Regions from separate parts of the Homo sapiens genome. Here region 1 is linked to region 2. The links come from fine-mapping of genetic effects on gene expression. A gene starts in region 2. The other region holds a variant in brackets. All regions are shown on one strand. Distances are from middle to middle.

Evidence for each region. PIP is the estimated chance that this variant, and not a neighbour inherited with it, causes the effect.
Region 1: its variant is fine-mapped to the expression of IGHMBP2 in whole blood (TOPMed, PIP above 0.99). The same link has a PIP of 0.9 or more in blood mononuclear cells.

Annotation. Positions count from the first base shown.
Region 1 is chr11:68,874,712-68,883,287 of GRCh38, forward strand. No RefSeq gene overlaps it. Among named protein-coding and RNA genes, the nearest start is that of LINC02701, 11 kb to the left of the region's middle. The variant G/A (reference allele first, on the strand shown) is at 4,017.
Region 2 is chr11:68,899,152-68,907,727 of GRCh38, forward strand. IGHMBP2 (immunoglobulin mu DNA binding protein 2) reads left to right here and starts at 4,740. Exons shown (of 15, transcript NM_002180.3): 1 at 4,740-4,887; 2 at 6,918-7,087. The coding sequence starts at 4,802. MRPL21 (mitochondrial ribosomal protein L21) reads right to left here and starts at 4,681. Exons shown (of 7, transcript NM_181514.2): 1 at 4,572-4,681; 2 at 1,397-1,454. The coding sequence starts at 4,659. RefSeq lists enhancers at 4,554-5,281, 4,713-4,832, 5,163-5,222.

The DNA.
Region 1 (8,576 bases), 24 kb before region 2:
TCCTAACAACATGGAAATGGTTTGTACAGGATGGTGCCACCTGGGGAAGGAAACCTACTCATCAGCAGGGTTCAGTTCAGCCCATCCCTGCACTGCGGCAGTTCCCCCCACACCCATTCATTTCGCGGTCCCAAGTGGTGGCCACGTTAAGCCAGTACGCACAAGTTCTTCTGATGGGCATCGATGTGTCCTACTTGAAGGAACCCCCACATTTCCACAGGGCCGCGCCCCACGTGGCCACCCCTTCAATAAGCCAGGTTTCTACCACCCTCCTGCCTGACCATGCGGCCGCTGCCCAGGAGCCAGTAAAAACCTAAACACAGGGGCTCCCACCACTGTTCAATTTTATTTTGTTTTGTTATGTTATGTTATGTTATGTTATGTTATGTTATTTATTTTATTTTTGAGATGGAGTTTTGCTCTGTCACCCAGGGAGTGGGGTGGAGTGGTGAAATCTCGGCTCACTGCAACCTCTGCCTCCCAGGTTCAAGCAATTCTCCTGCCTCAGCCTCCCGAGTAGCTGGGATTACAGGCACCTGCCACCACGCCTGCCTAATTTTTGTATTTTTTAGTAGAGATGGGGTTTCGCCGTGTTGCCCAGGCTGCTGTCAAGCTCCTGACCTCCAGTGATCTGCCCACTTTGGCCTCCCAAAGTGCTGGGATTACAGGCGTGAGCCACTGGGCCCGGCCTACCTTTCAATTCTTCCACCACTGCCAGGAAAACAGTGTGCAGTTCAGCCCACCAAGCTGATTTGTTTCCACCCTTCTTTGATCACAGTGGCATCCCTCCAGACCGGATGTTTCCTATTCACCACTAACCAGGCAGCTCTTTCCTGGCCAGTTGACAGCTGTGTATGGGGCATTCCCCAAGCGATGATAAAATCCGGCAGCTCAAATGAGAATTTATGAACACAAAGAAGCAAACAACAGACCTACTTGAGGGTGGTCTACTTGAGGGTGGAGGGTGGGAGGAGGGAGAGGAGCAGAAAAGATAACTATCGGGTTAATGCGGTTTGGGTGTGTCCCCACCCAAATCTCATCTTGAATTGTAGTTCCCACAATCCCCACGTGTTGTGGAAGGGACCCAGTGGGAGGTAATTGAATCATGGGGCAGGTTGTCCCCATGCTGCTGTTCTCATGATAGTGAGTGAGTTCTCACAAGATCTGATGGTTTTATAAAAAGCTTTTCTCCCTTTTGCTTGGCACTTCTCCTATCTGATGCCATAAGAAGAAGAACATGCTTGCTTCCCCTTCCGCCATGATTGTAAGTTTCCTGAGGCCTCCCCAGCCATGCTGAACTGTGAGTCAATTAAACCTCTTTTTAAAATAAAGTACTCAGTCTCCTGGGACACGGTGGCTCAAGCCTGTAATCCCAGCACTTTAGGAGGCTGAGGCAGGTGGATCACATGAGGTCAGGAGTTCAAGACCAGCCGGTCCAACATGGTGAAACCCCATCTCTACTAAAAATACAAAAAGTAGCCAGATGTGGTGGCACATGCCCATAATCCCAGCTACTCGGGAGGCTGAGGCATGAGACTCACTTGACCCTAGGAGGTAGAGGTTGCAGTGAGCTGAGATCATGTCACTGCACTCCAGCCTGGGTGACAGAGTGAGACTTCATCTCTAAATAAATAAATAAATAACCCAGTCTGGGGTATGTCTTTATTAGCAACGTGAGATACATGGGTACTGGGCTTAATACCTGGGTGATAAAATAATCTGTACAACAGGCCGGATGTGGTGGCTCAAGCCTGTAATCCCAGCACTTTGAGAGGCGGAGGTGGGAGGATCACCTGAGGTCAGGAGTTCAAGACCAGTCTGGCCAACATGACAAGACCCCATCTCTACTAAAAATACAAAAATTAGCTGGGCGCGGTGACAGGTGCCTGTAATTCCAGCTACCTGGGAGGCTGAGGCAGGAGAATCACTTGAACCTAGGAGGCAGAGGTTGCAGTGAACCAAGATCATGCCACTGAACTCTGGCCTGGGGGATAGAACGAGACTCTGTCTCAAAAAAAAAAAAAATCTGTACAACAAACCCCTGCGACATGAGTTTATCTATGTAACAAACCTTCACATGTATCCCTGAACCTAAAATAAAAGTTAAAAAAAACATCCAGCAGCTCCTCACACAGTTCCAGAGTCAGTCCCAGGGGATTCTCCCTGCTTGTGAGTCTCCTCCTTGCCTTCCCCAGCAAGGAGTCCCCATCCTTGCCTTCATATAGGATGGTTCACCATCCTATATGAACCATTTTCGTGTTGTTACGGAACTTTTCTTGGCGCTGTCATCTCCATTAGAGGGTTTCTGTGATGTCACCCAAGGTATTGTAGGTATTTCAGGTTTCAAGATTATTTTATGTCCTTCAGTCATGAGGTAGCTTCAATTAATGTCTAACAGCAAGTTAGTAAATGCCCCTCCAATGGAAATTTTCTAGTCCAAAGTCCCAGGTAGACTGGGTGTGATGGCTCATGCCTGTAATCCCAGCACTTTGGGAGGCCATAGTGAGAGGATTGCCTGAGTCTAGGAGTTTGAGACCAGCCTGGGCAATATGATTAAACCCTATCTCTACTACAAATACAAAAATTAGCTGGGCATGGTGGTGTGTGCCTGTAGTCCCAGCTACTCAGGAGGCTGAGGCAGGAGAATCGCTAGAACCCGGGAGGCAGAGGTTGCAGTGAGCTGAGATCATGCCACTGCACTCTAGCCTGGGCAACAGAGAGAGACTCTGTCTCAAACAAAACAAAACAAAACAAAACAAAACAAACAAACAAGCACCCTTACACACAGCGTTTTCCATGACCTGGGTAATGGGCATGTCCAGTAGAAACACATTCTGTTCATCACAAAGCCAACATCAAATGGCTTGTGTTCAAATCTGATGAGCTGCTCCGTCTGAGACATTTGACTTGGCATGTAGACGAGGAAAGGAACAGGGACCTTTCTCAGGGTACACAGACCCTACAGTGACTTTTACCCAGTCCAGCAGTCCAGCTGTCCCCTTGGGAGTCACCTCCTGCGTGTCTGAATCAGGGACAGCTCCCCGTGATTGTCCCATGGTGAGCTGCGGGTGCTGTGTCAACCCAAACACACTCTTCCACCCTGCAGCATTTAAAACTGAAGACACTGATCCTAAATCAGCTACTGCCAGAATCCATTTTCCTAAAGGCGCCCCAGGAAGCAGAAAACATGGAGCTACAAAATGAAACCCTTCCGTCACACTCCACGGCCTGGCTTTGGCAGTCGCTTGGTTCTGTCCTCCCTGCTGTGGACCACCTTGTTGGTGACCAGAGTTCTCAGAGGCACTTTCTGTTATTCCTGCGTCATTTTGCCCTTGGGAGTCAGCTCTGAGGCTAGCAGCCTGTCGTCCAAAAGGCCACCAGGATGGCCAGATAGTAGAAAGAGCTGGACTGGTGATTTCAGCTTGCAAATCAGGGAGAGGTCATCTCCGGTGTGGACTGAAGGTTTGCTGTCTTCCAAGAGGGAAAGGGCAGGTGAGGTTGATGACTCACAGGGCCCGTATCACACAGCAGAGTCACACGTATTCAGCAGGTTTGGAGGAAAAGCTATATTTGTTCATAATGGGGGTTGAGTGCACGTGCGATGGGTAAACATGCATGTAACATACATTCCATGTTCACTTTGGGGTGGGGCTCTGGCTTTAAAATGAGGTGGAATGTGGCTCTTTTCATCAAAATGTGAGCTATAAGGCTGGGTGTGGTGGCTCACGCCTGTAATTCCAACACTTTGGAAGGCTGAGGTGGGAGGACTGCTTGAGGCCAGGAGTTCAAGACCGACCTGGGCAACATAACAAAACCCTGTCTCTACAAAAAAAAAATTAAAAAAATTAAAAAGAAAAAGGGCAGGGCTGGGCACGGTGGCTCATGTCTGTAATCCCAACACTTTGGGAGGCCAAGGTGGGCAGATCATTTGAGGTTGGGAGTTTGACACCAGCCTGGCCAACATGGTGAAGCCCCATTTCTACTAAAAATACAAAAATTAGCTGGGTGTGGTGGTG[G/A]GCACCTGTAGTCCCAGCTCCTCAGGAGGCTGAGGCAGGAGAATAGCTTGAACCTGGGAGGTGGAGCTTGCAGTGAGCCAAGATCATGCCATGGCCCTCCAGCCTGGCCCACAGAGCCACCATCTCAGAAACAAAATGAAACGAAACAAAACGAAACAAAACAAAACAAAAAAAGAGGGAGGGTACAGTCACATTGTTTTGAGGTCTTGGTTAAACCTACTGAATCCACACGTTGCATGTGAAAAGGAGGCAGAGGAACAGTCCATTATGTATTCTTCTCGAGCTCAATAAAACTACATTTTTATGAGAAAGAAGTCAAATATGCATTGAGGTGGGTGGTGATGGCAGGTATCTTTTCTTTCTTTCCTTCCTTCCTTCCTTCTTTCCTTTCTTTCCTTCCCTTCCCTTCCTCCCCTCCTCCCTCCCTCTCTCTCTCTCTCTTTCTTTCCAATCTCGACTCACCGCAACCTCTGCCTCCCGGGTTCAAGCGATTCTTCTGCCTCAGCCTCCTGAGTAGCTGGGATTACAGGCATGTGCCACCACGCCTGGCTAATTTTGTACTTTTAGTAGAGATGGGGTTTCTCCATGTTAGTCAGGCTGGTTTCGAACTCCAACCTCAGGTGATCTGCCTGCCTCAGCCTCCCAAAGTGCTGGGATTACAGGCGTGAGCCACTGCGCCCGGCCAGTGGGAACCATTTCTAGTCTCCTCTTGTTCCATGCCTGTGAAGATAAGCTGTTAATTGACATTGTCAGGGTGGCCTCTCTTCACGGGTGGCCTCTTATCTTGTTGCTCTGTGTTTAGGAACAAAAGGAAAGGCAGGATTTGTGTCACTTGGCTTCCCAGCTTAGCCCTTCCCTTTGGCATAGCAGGTTTGGGGTCTCCAGATTTTATTTTCCTTTCACAATTCTGACACCAACTGGGGGAAAACACACTGTGTTTTTCTACTTCTGACACCAGATGTGGGTGTTTTTTTCCACACCAAGCAGTTCTCCAAATACCAGCTGGGCAGTCCTGCAATGTAATCCAATGCTGCCTCTGTCGACCTGGTGTTGGCACAGACCCCACAGGTTAAGCGCCCAGTCCCACAGACTGCCTCCAGTTCGGATGTCAATCCCAAGTCCAAGCTCAGGCCTCCAGCACTTCTAACCCATTGCCTGTCAGTTGGGGGTTCTCACGACACTCTCCTAACGGTCCGTTATTTGCTAGAGCAGCTCACAGAACTTGGAAACACTTCACCGATTTATTAGAAAGGACACAAACTCAGGAACAGGCACATGGAAGAGATGCACAGGGCAGGGTGTGCTGGGGTGGGGCTGGGACGGAGCTTCCATCCCCTTTCTGAACATGCCACCTGCCCAGCATCTCCACCTGTTCAGCATCCTGGAAGCTCATCAGATCTAGTTGTTCAAGAGGTTTTTTAGTGCTGAGGGCAGTGGCTCACGCCTGCAATCCCAGCACTTTGGAAGAGGCCAAGGCAGGAAGATCCCTTCAATTCAGGAGTTCCAAACCAGCCTGGACAGCGCAGGGAGACCTCTTCTCTACAAAAAATTTAAAAATTAGTCAGGTGAGGTGGTGGGCCTGGGTGACAAAAATTAAAAAAAAAAAAAAATGAGACAGGGTCTCGCTCTGTTGCCCAGACTGGAGTGCAATGGTGCCGAATTTGCTCATTGCAACCTCTGCCTCCCGGGTTCAAGCGATTCTCCTGCCTCAGCCTCCTGAGTAGCTGGGATTACAGGTGCCTGCCACCACGCCCAGCTAATTTTTTTGTGTTATTACTAGAGATGGGGTTTCACCATGTTGTCCAGGCTGACCTCAGGTGACCCACCCGCCTCGGCCTCCAAAGTGCTGGGGTTACAGGCTTGAGCCACCGTACTCGGCCAAAAAAAAGTTTTCAAAGAGGTTAATCTCTAGTCACCACGTCCCTCCTTCCTGGAGGTTAGCAGGAGGTGTTGAAAGTTCCAGCCCTGGAGTCCTTTGGTCTTTCTGGTGACTGCAAACCCTCCCCAATCTGAGGTTATTTGGGGGCCCTACCCTAATTTATCTCATTAGCATAAACTCAGCTGTGATCAAAAGGGCACGTATGAATCACAAAAGACAATCCCATGACTCTGGAAATTCCAAGGGTTTTAGGTGTTCTATGCCCAGAACAGGGGACAAAGACCCAGTATATTTCACAGTATTCCACGGTTGTCTGATGTGAGCCGGTTTTATTTTTGTGAGCAAGTGATAAAATCTTAGAGTAAAGCCCCCAAGGGCTAGGGCTTATTTGTTATGGTTGCAGAATGTACCCTGTGCTGACAAACACACCAGGGGATTCTAAAGCGCCGTCAGGGACCTGGTGTGGTGGCCCATGCCTGTCATCCCAGCACTTTAGGTGGCCCAGGAGGGAGGACTGCTTGAGGCTAGGAGTTTGAGACAAGCCTGGGCAACATAGTAAGGACCCATCTCTACAAAAAAAATACAAAAATTAGCTGGGCCTGGTGGCACACACCTGTGGTCCCAGCTACTCGGGAGGCTGAGGTGAGAGGGTCACTTGAGCCCAGGAGTTGGAGGTTAACGGTGAGCTATGATTGTGCCACTGCACTCCAGCCTGGGTGACAGAGCAAGACCCCATCTCTAAAATAAAATAAATAAAAATAAAGTGCAGCCAGGGGTGAGACTCACCAGAACCTCTGTGCCGTTCAGTTTCTTCATGTGTAAGATGTGAAAAGTCCCAGAGCCTCTGTCACAAGGCCCTTCCTAGGAAGGGGGTTAGGTGAATTGCACAGGTTGTGCCTGGTCCAGTGCTCTGCACATAGAAACGCTCAACAAACATCACTGTGAGCTCCTTCAGCAGTCAGGGACCTTCCTACTCCACTGGACCCAGAAGCACTGGGCACCACACTCTCTGTTCCTCTTTTATTTTTTCCTTTCTTCTTTCTTTTTCTTTCTTTCTTTCTTTCTTTTTTTTTTTTTTTTTGGACAGTGTCTCACTCTGTCACCCAGGCTGGAGTGCAGTGGTGCAATCTTGGTTCACTCCATCCCCGAGGCTCAAGGGATCCTCCCTCCTCAGCCTCCCAAGTAGATGGAACTACACGTGTGCACCACCACACCTGGCTAGTTAATTTTTTTTTTTTTAGAGAAGAAGTCTCCCTAAGTTGTTCAGGCTAGTCTCGAACTCCTGAGCTCAAGAGATCCACATGCCTCAGCCTCCTAAAGTGCTGGGATTACAGGTGTAAGCCACCGTGCCTGGCCTGTTTCTCTTTTATTTTTTGAAACAAACAAGTTCTTACTTTGTCTCCCAGGCTGGAGTGCAGTGGGGTGAACACAAGCTCATTGCAGCCTCGACCTCCCTGGCTCAAGCGATCCTCCCTCCTCAGCCTCCCAAGTAGCTGGGACTACAGGCATGTGCCACCATGCCAGGCTAACTTTCATATTTTTTGTAGATATGGGGTTTCTTCATGTTGCCCAGGCTGGTCTTGAACCCCTCAGCTGAAGCAATCCACCCATCTCGGCCTCCTGAAGTGCTGGGATTACAGGTGTGAGCCACTGTGCCCGGCTTTCCATGTTCCTTTGTCTACTCAGGGAAAGGACTGCATCTTCTCACCCTTTGTCCATTTCTTCTTTGTCCTGCTGAGTCATGGCAGCCCTCGTGCCATATGATTTTATTTTACACAACTGTATTCCATCCATCAGTTCCTTTGAGTGTTGGTTCTGGAGGGAGGACCTCTGTGTCTCCTGGTAGCATCACCCGGAAGAAGAAAAGAAGGAAGCAAGATGGCGCCTTTCAGGAACACAAGTCAGCCAGGGTTTCTGCACCATTCCTGGTCTATGCCCCGGGAGCCAGGGCCTCGACTCTGCAGAGCCCAGTCACGGGAAGAGGTGTCCGTGCAGGAAGTGGGTCGGAGAGCACCCAGCCTTCCAGGTGTGCTTCTCTCTCTTTTTTTTTTTTGAGACAGAGTCTCGCTCTTGTTGCTCAGGCTGGAGTGCAATGGTGCGATCTTGGCTCACTGCAACCTGCGCTCCTGAGTTCAAGCGATTCTCCTGCCTCAGCCTCCCGAGCAGCTGGGATTACAGGCGCCCACCACCACACCCAGCTAATTTTTTGTATTTTTAGTAGAGATGGGGTTTCACCACGTTGGCCAGGCTGGTCTCGAACTCCTGACCTCAGGTGATCCACCCACCTTGGCCTCCTAAAGTTCTGGGATTACAGGCATGAGCCCCCGCTCCCAGCCCCAGGTGTGCTTCTCTTATCTCTGTGAGCCACCACAAGCTTGTGGCCTGCCTTGGAAGTGGCTAAGGCCCCAGGAGTCTGAGGCCCCCAGGGTGTGGAGATGCTGGGAGAGAATCACAAGCAGCTGCTGTCCCTCCTGGGCCCCTGATGCAGCCCCTTCCTGGATCTTTTAGATAACACCAAGCCCCCCGCACGCATTGCAGTACAATGACATGCTTGATGCCTCCAGAGCTATGTCTGGCCTGTCTGGGACTTGGTCTCTTCTGCAAAGCTCCTGGGGCATCAGTCTTGCCTGACACTGACCTTCCTGAGTTGGCCCAGGATCCCACCGACATCTGCACCTCAC
Region 2 (8,576 bases):
GAAGGGAGGAAAGAAAGAGGGGGGCCTAGATTCAAAAGGAGGTGGGGTCTTTCTTTCTGTAGTCTACAAAGAGGGAGGGTAGGTAGATCCCAAACCGAATTATTCAGAACCGTTTTTAAGCTTTTATTGCTGCTGCCACTGCAAAGTAAAATTTCAGTCTTTCTACTCCAGGGTTGCATTAGGAGGAAGAAAACGACTTGCTCCATATGCAAAATGCACCGGCCTCCACACCAAAGACCAGGCCCACCCGTCCTGTTGGCTGGCGCGCAGGAGGGGCTCCACACCAATCTGGGAGAGGAATGAATGCTTTCCCAGTGGGGTAGGGCTTGGAGCTCCTAGAGACATGAACTCCGTGATCTGTGGTTGGTCAATGACCTTGAGAGACAAGGAGGACAAGGAAGGTGCTGCTCTCTACAAAACGTCTTTGACCTGTTTGATGTCTAGTCTCCCCATACGGGTTCAGCAGTGCCCAGTGTGAGAAGAACACGCTGGCAGGAAGGTGCTAACCTCTCACACAGGACACAGGGGTAGTAGGCACAACCTACCCACATGCTCACTTACAACTTCTTCCTATGCTCAGAATGTTTTGCCGCTTCTTTGAGAAGCAAGAAAGACTCCCACATCTCCCCACTGCAGAGGATCCCTGGAGTCCCAGCAGCAGTTCCAGCAGCCAATGTTTTGTGAGTGCTGACTGTATGCCAGGCACTGTTCTAAGAGCTTTAAATGTATACATTTACTTAATCCTCTCCAACACCCATGCAGATAGAAATGAACATTACTTCCATCTTGCAGAAGCCTGGCGTCCCAGGCTGTGAGGGGCAGCCGGAACTGCACCCCGGGGGGGTCCCTACAGTAACTGCTATCCCTGCACTGCTCCTGTGTCTCCCACCAGTGAGTGGAACTTTGTCGAATGTTTTCTGCAGTTTATGATACCTAAAAATGTTTTCTCAAGTATAAAATTTTAACACTGAATGTGCTTTTTCAAATAATGAGTTTCTCTTAGAGACTCTGATACAAACTTCCTCATCAGAAATCTTGAGTTAAGACTTCAAGCTCCTCCATAATAAAAGAGAGCAAACACATACAGAATTTCTCTTTGGTCTCTTGCAGTTACGTCTTCTTTTAAGGGTCTCAGAAAAATACCGTCAAAAAAGTTAAAGCTGAAAGTGGTGGTGCATGCCTGTAATCCCAGCTACTCAGGAGGCTGAGGCGGGAGGACCACTTTAGGCCAGGAGTTCAAAACCAGTCTGGGAAACATAGTGAAACTCTGTCTCTTAAAAACAAAAGAGGAAATTTAAATATTATTGAGAACCAAAAGGTAGGAAGTTTTGACTTTAGAAAGATGGTTCTACAAATGAAAGGAAAAGAGGCACCAAAACCCACATTTTGATATTACCCTGGTAGATATGAAGTGCTCTGTGAATTGAACCTTCGAGAAGCAGACCAAAGGGAGGCTGAGGGAAGAAGAGAAACACAGATCATTACCATTAATACTACAAATGCAAACTGCCCTTTATGATGCTAAATGCACAGCTGCTGCTCCTGGTACATGGTATGAACCACTGCATGACAGCCTGCCCACAGAAACACCTAGGTGAGCAAAACTACAAGAACGTCACTTACAGCTACTGGTTATATGTGTTGAGATCAGTTAGCCACATCATCTACAAGCGCCTGAGACCAGAACCACCCGTCCACTAACTCATGCCTTGACTAAGTGCCTGGTAGGTTCAGACTCTGATCTGTGCCCAAGCGTGGGAGCAGCCTCCAAGATGGCCCTGCTGGGCCCCGCCTCCTGCTATTCTTACCCCTGTTAGCCCCCTGGGAGTGGCCTGTGTGTCCAACAGCTAGTGACAGACATGCTAGCACGTGGCTTCTGGGATGAGGTGATAACCAACTGGGACTTCCATCTTGGATGCCTGTGCTCACCCTTTCTGATCTCTGGCCTTAGGGCTGCCCTGCTGTGAGCAGCCCTACCTAGAGGTCCACATGGCGGGGAACTAGGCCTATCGCCAACACCCATGGGAACGACCTTGCAGGTAGATTCTCCAGCCGCTGGCGCAGTGGAGTCTTGAGATAACTACAGCCCCTGCAGACTTGCTTGCTGCAAGCTAAGACCCTGAGCCAGAACCAGCCACTTAAGCTGCTTCTGTGTTCCTGGCTCTCAGAACTGGTGTGAGTTAATAAATGTTTTAAGCTGCTAAGTTTTGGGGTAATTTCTGATGTAACCGTAGATAACGCATACACCAGGAATACACCAGGAAACAAAGACATTCAATCTACTGAGAAGACAGGGGATCAAAATAAGTGCTTAGGTGTAAAAAGCAGAGAACAGTTTCTCAATAACCACTTTTAAAGAAACTCAGCTATAATTTACACACCATAAAAACCACCTTTTTAAAGTTCACCCATTAGCACCAGCTCCCCATTTGCATCTCCTCGGCTGCTTTCTCCTCTCCTCTCCCATTTGGGCATCCGGGGCTCAACCCTTGGCCTTGACCTCCTCTCCGCCCATGGCCATTCCTCTGGTGACTGCATCCAGTCCGATGGATTTAAACACCCCCAATGTGCTGGTGACTCCCAAGTTTACACCTCCAGCCAGGGCTTCTCTCCTGGTTTTGCATACCCACCTATCTATCTGCCTTAGCCACTCGTGTCTGACGAGCACCTCACACCTCCAGAGGCTCCTCATTTCTTCCCATGCCTGCTTCTCCCACACTCCTCCCTCTCACATGAGGGCAACTTCATCCTCCCAGTTGCTCAGGCCCCAAACCTCCATCAGTTTTGACTCTTCTCTCGCACACTACTCAGTCAACCCATTGGCAAATCCATCCCACTATTAAAAACTTAGCAGGCTTCTGTACCTAATTTGCTTCTAGCTTTGTTTTTGGGTCCCCAGGGAACAAACAGTCTCCTTCCTCTCCCACAGGATTTCCTTTAGGTAGTCCTAGAGACTGTGACTGTGTACTTCCATCACGTCTCCTTTGCTCACTCTTCAAGGCCCCAGCTGCTCACTGTTTTGGTCACCTTGTCTCTACTCGCTTCACTGTGTGTCTTTCTCTCCTAATGCGTGAGTCTGTACTTGAACATAGCATTGGAGGGGTGGTTTCATGTAGGTAGGTAGAATGGAGTAAGTCCCACTGCTTTTGTAAAAACTTTCCTGCCTACTTAAACCTAAGTTTTATTATGGAAAATGTCAAGCATACAAAAGTAAAGAGAACAGAATAGTGAACTCTCTCAATTATCCCTTTCCAGGTTCAACAGTTACCAACTCATGGCCAATTTTGGCATCTACATTGCCTCTGGCCCAACTCTGTGATTATTATTAATTTCTTAATAGACTTTATTTTTTAGCACAGTTTTAGTTTCACACCAAAATTGAGTGGAAGGTACAGAGAGTTCCCATATGTCCCCTGTCCATGTGCCCACAGCTTCCTATCAACATCCCTCACCAGAGTGGTACAATCTTTACAATTGATGAACCTACATTGACACATCATTGTTATCCAAAGTCCATAGTCTACATTAGGGGTTCACCCTTGGTAGTGTACATTCTATGGATTTGGACAAACTTATAATGACATGTATCTACCATTATATCATACAGAATAGTTTCACTGCCCTAAAAATCCTCTGAGCTCCACCTATTTATCCTTTTCTCCCCCAATCCTCTTACCCCCCATGTAACTTTTTACTGTCTCCTTAGATTTGCCTTTTCCAGAATGTCATAGTGGGAAACATACAAGATGTCCCCTTTTCAGGTTGGCTTCTTTTACTTAGTAACATGTATGTAAGTTTCCTCCATGTCTCTTCATGACTCATTTCTTTTTATTGCTGCATAATATTCTACTGTATGGATGTCCTACAGTTTATGTAACCATTCATCTCCTGAAGGACATCTGGGTTGCTTCCAAGTTTTGGGAATTATGGTACTATTCTTTTAATATCGTCCAATATAGAGTTAGATCCAGTTTTCCATTTTTGGGGGTCATGGTGAGACATGAAACCCAGGTTTAAAACATACATAAACACTCATGCACACAAATACACACTCCAACCATTTTCAAGCAGAGATTTATAGAGTTTTTAACGGACATAACCTTTTTGGAGCCTCGTATCAGCCCAGCGCCTTAAATACGGCTGTTTCTTTTGCAGAATGAGTTCAGATTAGGCGAGGATATCCATCACCATTTTTCAGACCAGCTCGCAGCCTGGGGGCAGTGGTTCAAGCACAGGCTTTGGAGCCGAAATGACTGCGCCTGAAGTACTCTTCTTCCACTTCCCCGCTGTGTGACCCTGGGCACGTTACCTAGCTCCTCTGAGCCTCACTCTTCTCCCCCATAACATAGGGCCTATACCAAAGTTCAAGGGCTATTGTCAGTATTCAGGCTACTAACTGAAGGAATCAAAATCTGAACCTGGGTTCCCCCGACTCCAAAACCCGTGCTATATTCACCACAAATGCGATCAACACACAAGGCACCAGGTCGGACCCAGGCACATACGTGGCGAGACCGCAGGGAGCAGCGCTCGCTCTGCGTCCTCCCTTCCTCCCATATCCCAGGTCTCACCTGCTCCGGGCCCCGAAGGTCTCAGGATGCTGTGGCTGCACGCGGACGCCAGCCGCCCTAAGGTGACCGTCAGGGAAGATGCTGCCATGGCCGCAGCCTCGGCCGGAAACGGAAACGACGCGAACCGCGTGCGTAACGCACGGGCCCGGCGGGGAACACCGGTCCGCTGTAACACCGGCCCGGCGCAGAAGCGGGACGTCGGCTTCTAGGGGCCCAGGCCGGCGGCGGCGATGGCCTCGGCAGCTGTGGAGAGCTTCGTGACCAAGCAACTGGACCTGCTGGAGCTTGAGAGAGACGCGGAGGTGGAGGAGCGCAGGTACGGGAGGCCGCCGGCGCCGCTCCCTCGCGGTCGGTCCCGCCGTGTCCCGGGCAGAGTCTCCGAGGGGCTCGGCCTCATAGTCTGGGGCGGGAATTTCGTCTCCGACCCTTCGAGTCAGGGGCAGGGATCGTCCGTCCCCTGCTTGGCCACCTCCCGAGTTGTCAGTCTCATCACTTCCTGGGCAGCGCGTTCCGTTTGGGGACCCTTAAGAAGCACTTTGATTTCCCGACCCGAGACCCCCCACTAAGCTTACACTCCTGGGCCCTGGCCCCGACCCCAGTTCCACCCGCAGCGAGTTAGCAGCCCTTTCCCTTATTCATTCAGTAAACATGGTTTGCGCCCATTCTCAGTCAGGCCCCGGCAGCATGAGTCAGGTGCACTGGCTGCCCCCGATCCGGCCAGCGGCGGGCTGGGCATAAGCAGAGAGTCCCTTCCCCTCCAGTGCGTCCAGGGCCGGCTGCGTGCGTGTCGCGGGGAAAGAGCCTGGAGGAGGAAGGCCCTTCCCTGGGGAGGGTCATGGTGGCTTCAAGGAGGGAGTGGTGCCTGAAGGAAAATTGGAGTTAAGCTGGTGGGTGCGGAGTAGGGTGGGGAGCCGTCCTGAGAGGTGTGGGGAGCCATGTGAGAGCCGGGCTTGTTTCCGAATGGGACTATTTACTTGTCCAAAACAATCAGAGCTAACACTTACGTACTTTCCATGCGTTAATTCTTTTACACCTCATCCCATGCCAACCCTACAGTGTAAGTTTCTTTTTTTTCTTTTTCTTTTTTTTTTTTTTAGACAGAGTCTCTCTCTGTCGCCCAGGCTGGAGTGCAGTGGCACGATCTCGGCTTACTGCAGCTTCCATCTCCCGGGTTCAAGCGATTCTCCTGCCTCAGCCTCCTGAGTGGCTGGGACTACAGGCGCGCCACCACGTCCTGCTAATTTTTTGTATTTTTAGTAGAGACAGGGTTTCACCATGTTGGCCAGGATGGTCTCGATCTCCTGACCTCGTGGTCTGCCCGCCTTGGCCTCCCAAAGTGTTGGGATTACAGGCGTGAGCCACCGTGCCCGGCCGCAGTGTAGGTTTCTGTTACTGTCATTTTCCGTCTAAGGAGATGGAGACAGAGAGGGGTTAAGTAACTTGCCCCGGGGTGACACAGTGTAGCCCGATTTGCTGTCAGGCAGTCTGCTTCCAGAGTTTGCAGTCAGCCATATGTGGGTAGGATTTGTCTGAGATGCTTTTGATCATGGCAATGGAGAGCTTTTGCAGTTATGTTGAGTTTCTTAGAATCCCAGCTGTTTCATTTATGGCTGTGTGACTTTGCAGGTTCTGTCTCTGAGCCTTACTTACTTCATCTGTAAAACTGGGATGATTCCCACCTCACAGGCTTGCTCTGAGAATGAAACGATCCCCTGTCAGTCAGGTGCTCAGCGTGGTGCCAAGGACAGAGTCAGCCCCCATGGCAGTGGCTCTTTCTGAGGATGCTGAGCAGACTGGCAGGGCGAGCCTGGGAAGGGCCTGGCTAAGGAGCTAGTCTTCTGTTCTGTGTATGAAGGATGGGCCATCAGCGGGGTTAAGCAGGTGAGGGAGGCGAATAGCTTTGCATTTTAGGAGGATTTCTTGGGTCTCCTGCTTTTGATTGGACGTGGAGAGGCCAGAGGTAAGGTAGTTGAGAGGCTCTGTTTAGTCCAGGTGAGCAGTGATGTGGATTTGAACCGGGGCTGTGGCAGCCAGGATGAGAGGCAGAGAAGTCCAGGTAGAAATGGGAGGGGCCTGATAGGACTTAGTGACAGATGGGAGGAGAGAGGGGAATGCTGATTGAAAGATCTGTCTCAGGTAACTGAGAGAAGGGTTGTGGCATTAACTGCCCTAGGGGGATGTAGGAGGAGCGGGATTGGGAGTGGAGCCAATTCGGAGTTCCATTGGGACATATTTAGTGCCTGTGAGTAGATCTTTATCTATGTTTCTTTCTCTTTTACTTTTCCTGGGTGGGTGGAAGTAGAAACTAGTAAAAATCCTGAAGCATCAATACCGGGTGTCTTCCAGGTCCTGGCAGGAGAACATCTCTCTGAAAGAGCTCCAGAGCCGAGGCGTGTGTTTGCTGAAGCTGCAGGTATCCAGCCAGCGCACTGGGCTGTACGGACGGCTGCTGGTCACCTTTGAGCCCAGGCGATACGGGTCCGCGGCAGCTCTTCCCAGTAACAGCTTTACTTCTGGTGTGTGCGTATTGACCTAGACAGACATTGAAATTTACTGGCATTCAGACCGTGACTTGTACCCTCGTAAAGACTGGATTAAAATGACCAGTTGGAGAATAAAGCGTTGCAATGAAGAACTCTTAATCAGAAGTCCAACAATTGATGTGGGTTTTAGTTGTCTAGATCAGCGTTGTCCAAAATGGTAGCCATTAGCCATGCGTGGTCATCAAATGTTTGAAGTGTGGCTTGTAATTGCCGCAGATACAGAATACACACCAAATTTGGAAGATTATGTTAAAAAAACAATTGGGAATATCTTGAGTAATTTTTCTGAATACTGATTACATGTTGAAATAATATTTTTCATATATTGGGTTAAATAAAAAATATCTTATTAAAATAATTTACCCATTTCTTTTCTTTTTTTTTTTTTTTTTTTGAGACAGAGTTTCGCTCTTATTGCCCAGTCTGGAGTGCAGTGGCATGATCTCGGCTCACTGCAACCTCCGCCTCCGGGGTTCAAGTGATTCTCCTGCCTCAGCCTCCCGAGTAGCTGGGATTAGAGGCATGCGCCACCGTGCCTGGCTAATTTTGTATTTTTAGTAGAGACGGGGTTTCTCCATGTTGTTCAGGCTGGTCTCGAACTCCCAACTTCAGGTGATCCGCCTGCTTTGGCCTCCCAAAGTGCTGGGATTACAGGTGTGAGCCAGTGCACCCAGCCTCTTTTAAATTTCTTAATATGGCTACTAGAAAACTTAAAACTACACGTGACTGGGTGCCTGTAATCCTAGCACTTTGGGAGGCCGAGGTGGGTGGATCACTTGATCTCAGGAGTTCGAGACCAGCCTGGGCAACGTGGCAAAACCCCATCTCTGCAAAAAAATAGAAAAATTAGCCAGATGTGGTGGTGTGTGCCTGTAGTTCCTGCTACTTGATGGGCTGAGGCAGGAGGATCGCTTGAACCTGGGAGGTTGAGGCTGCAGTGAGCTGAAATCACGCCACTGCACTCTAGCTTGGGGGCAAAGTGAGACCCTCTCTCAAAACAGACAAAAACAAAAGAAAAACTACATGTGACTCTCTTTATGTTTCTATGTAATGGGCAGCCTTGGTCCAGCTGGTAAACATGCAGGATGTGTACTTCTGTATTCCCAACCCTTTCTTGTGCCAAGCATGCTTTGGCTAAACTTGTGCCAGCCTGGTTGGAAAGGAGGGACAGTTAGAAGAAGCTTCTTAACCACACGCCTGGGATGCTTGTGTTAGACAACCACAGCCTTGGAAGCCTGGAGGAAGCAGCGTTGCCAGGGCTGTACTTTTTACTATGGAAGTGTCTCTGCCTTGTTTTGGTGGTGACGGAGTTTTAAATTTCATATTTTGATTTCGTAGACTTTAGCCCAACAATTACTGGAATACTGGCTGGATTTGGAGAAGATGAGATGAGGGTATTGAGAGAGGAGAGGGCCAGGAGGGGAACCTGTAGGTTGGAGTCAGACCTGAGCAGAGTTTGAGA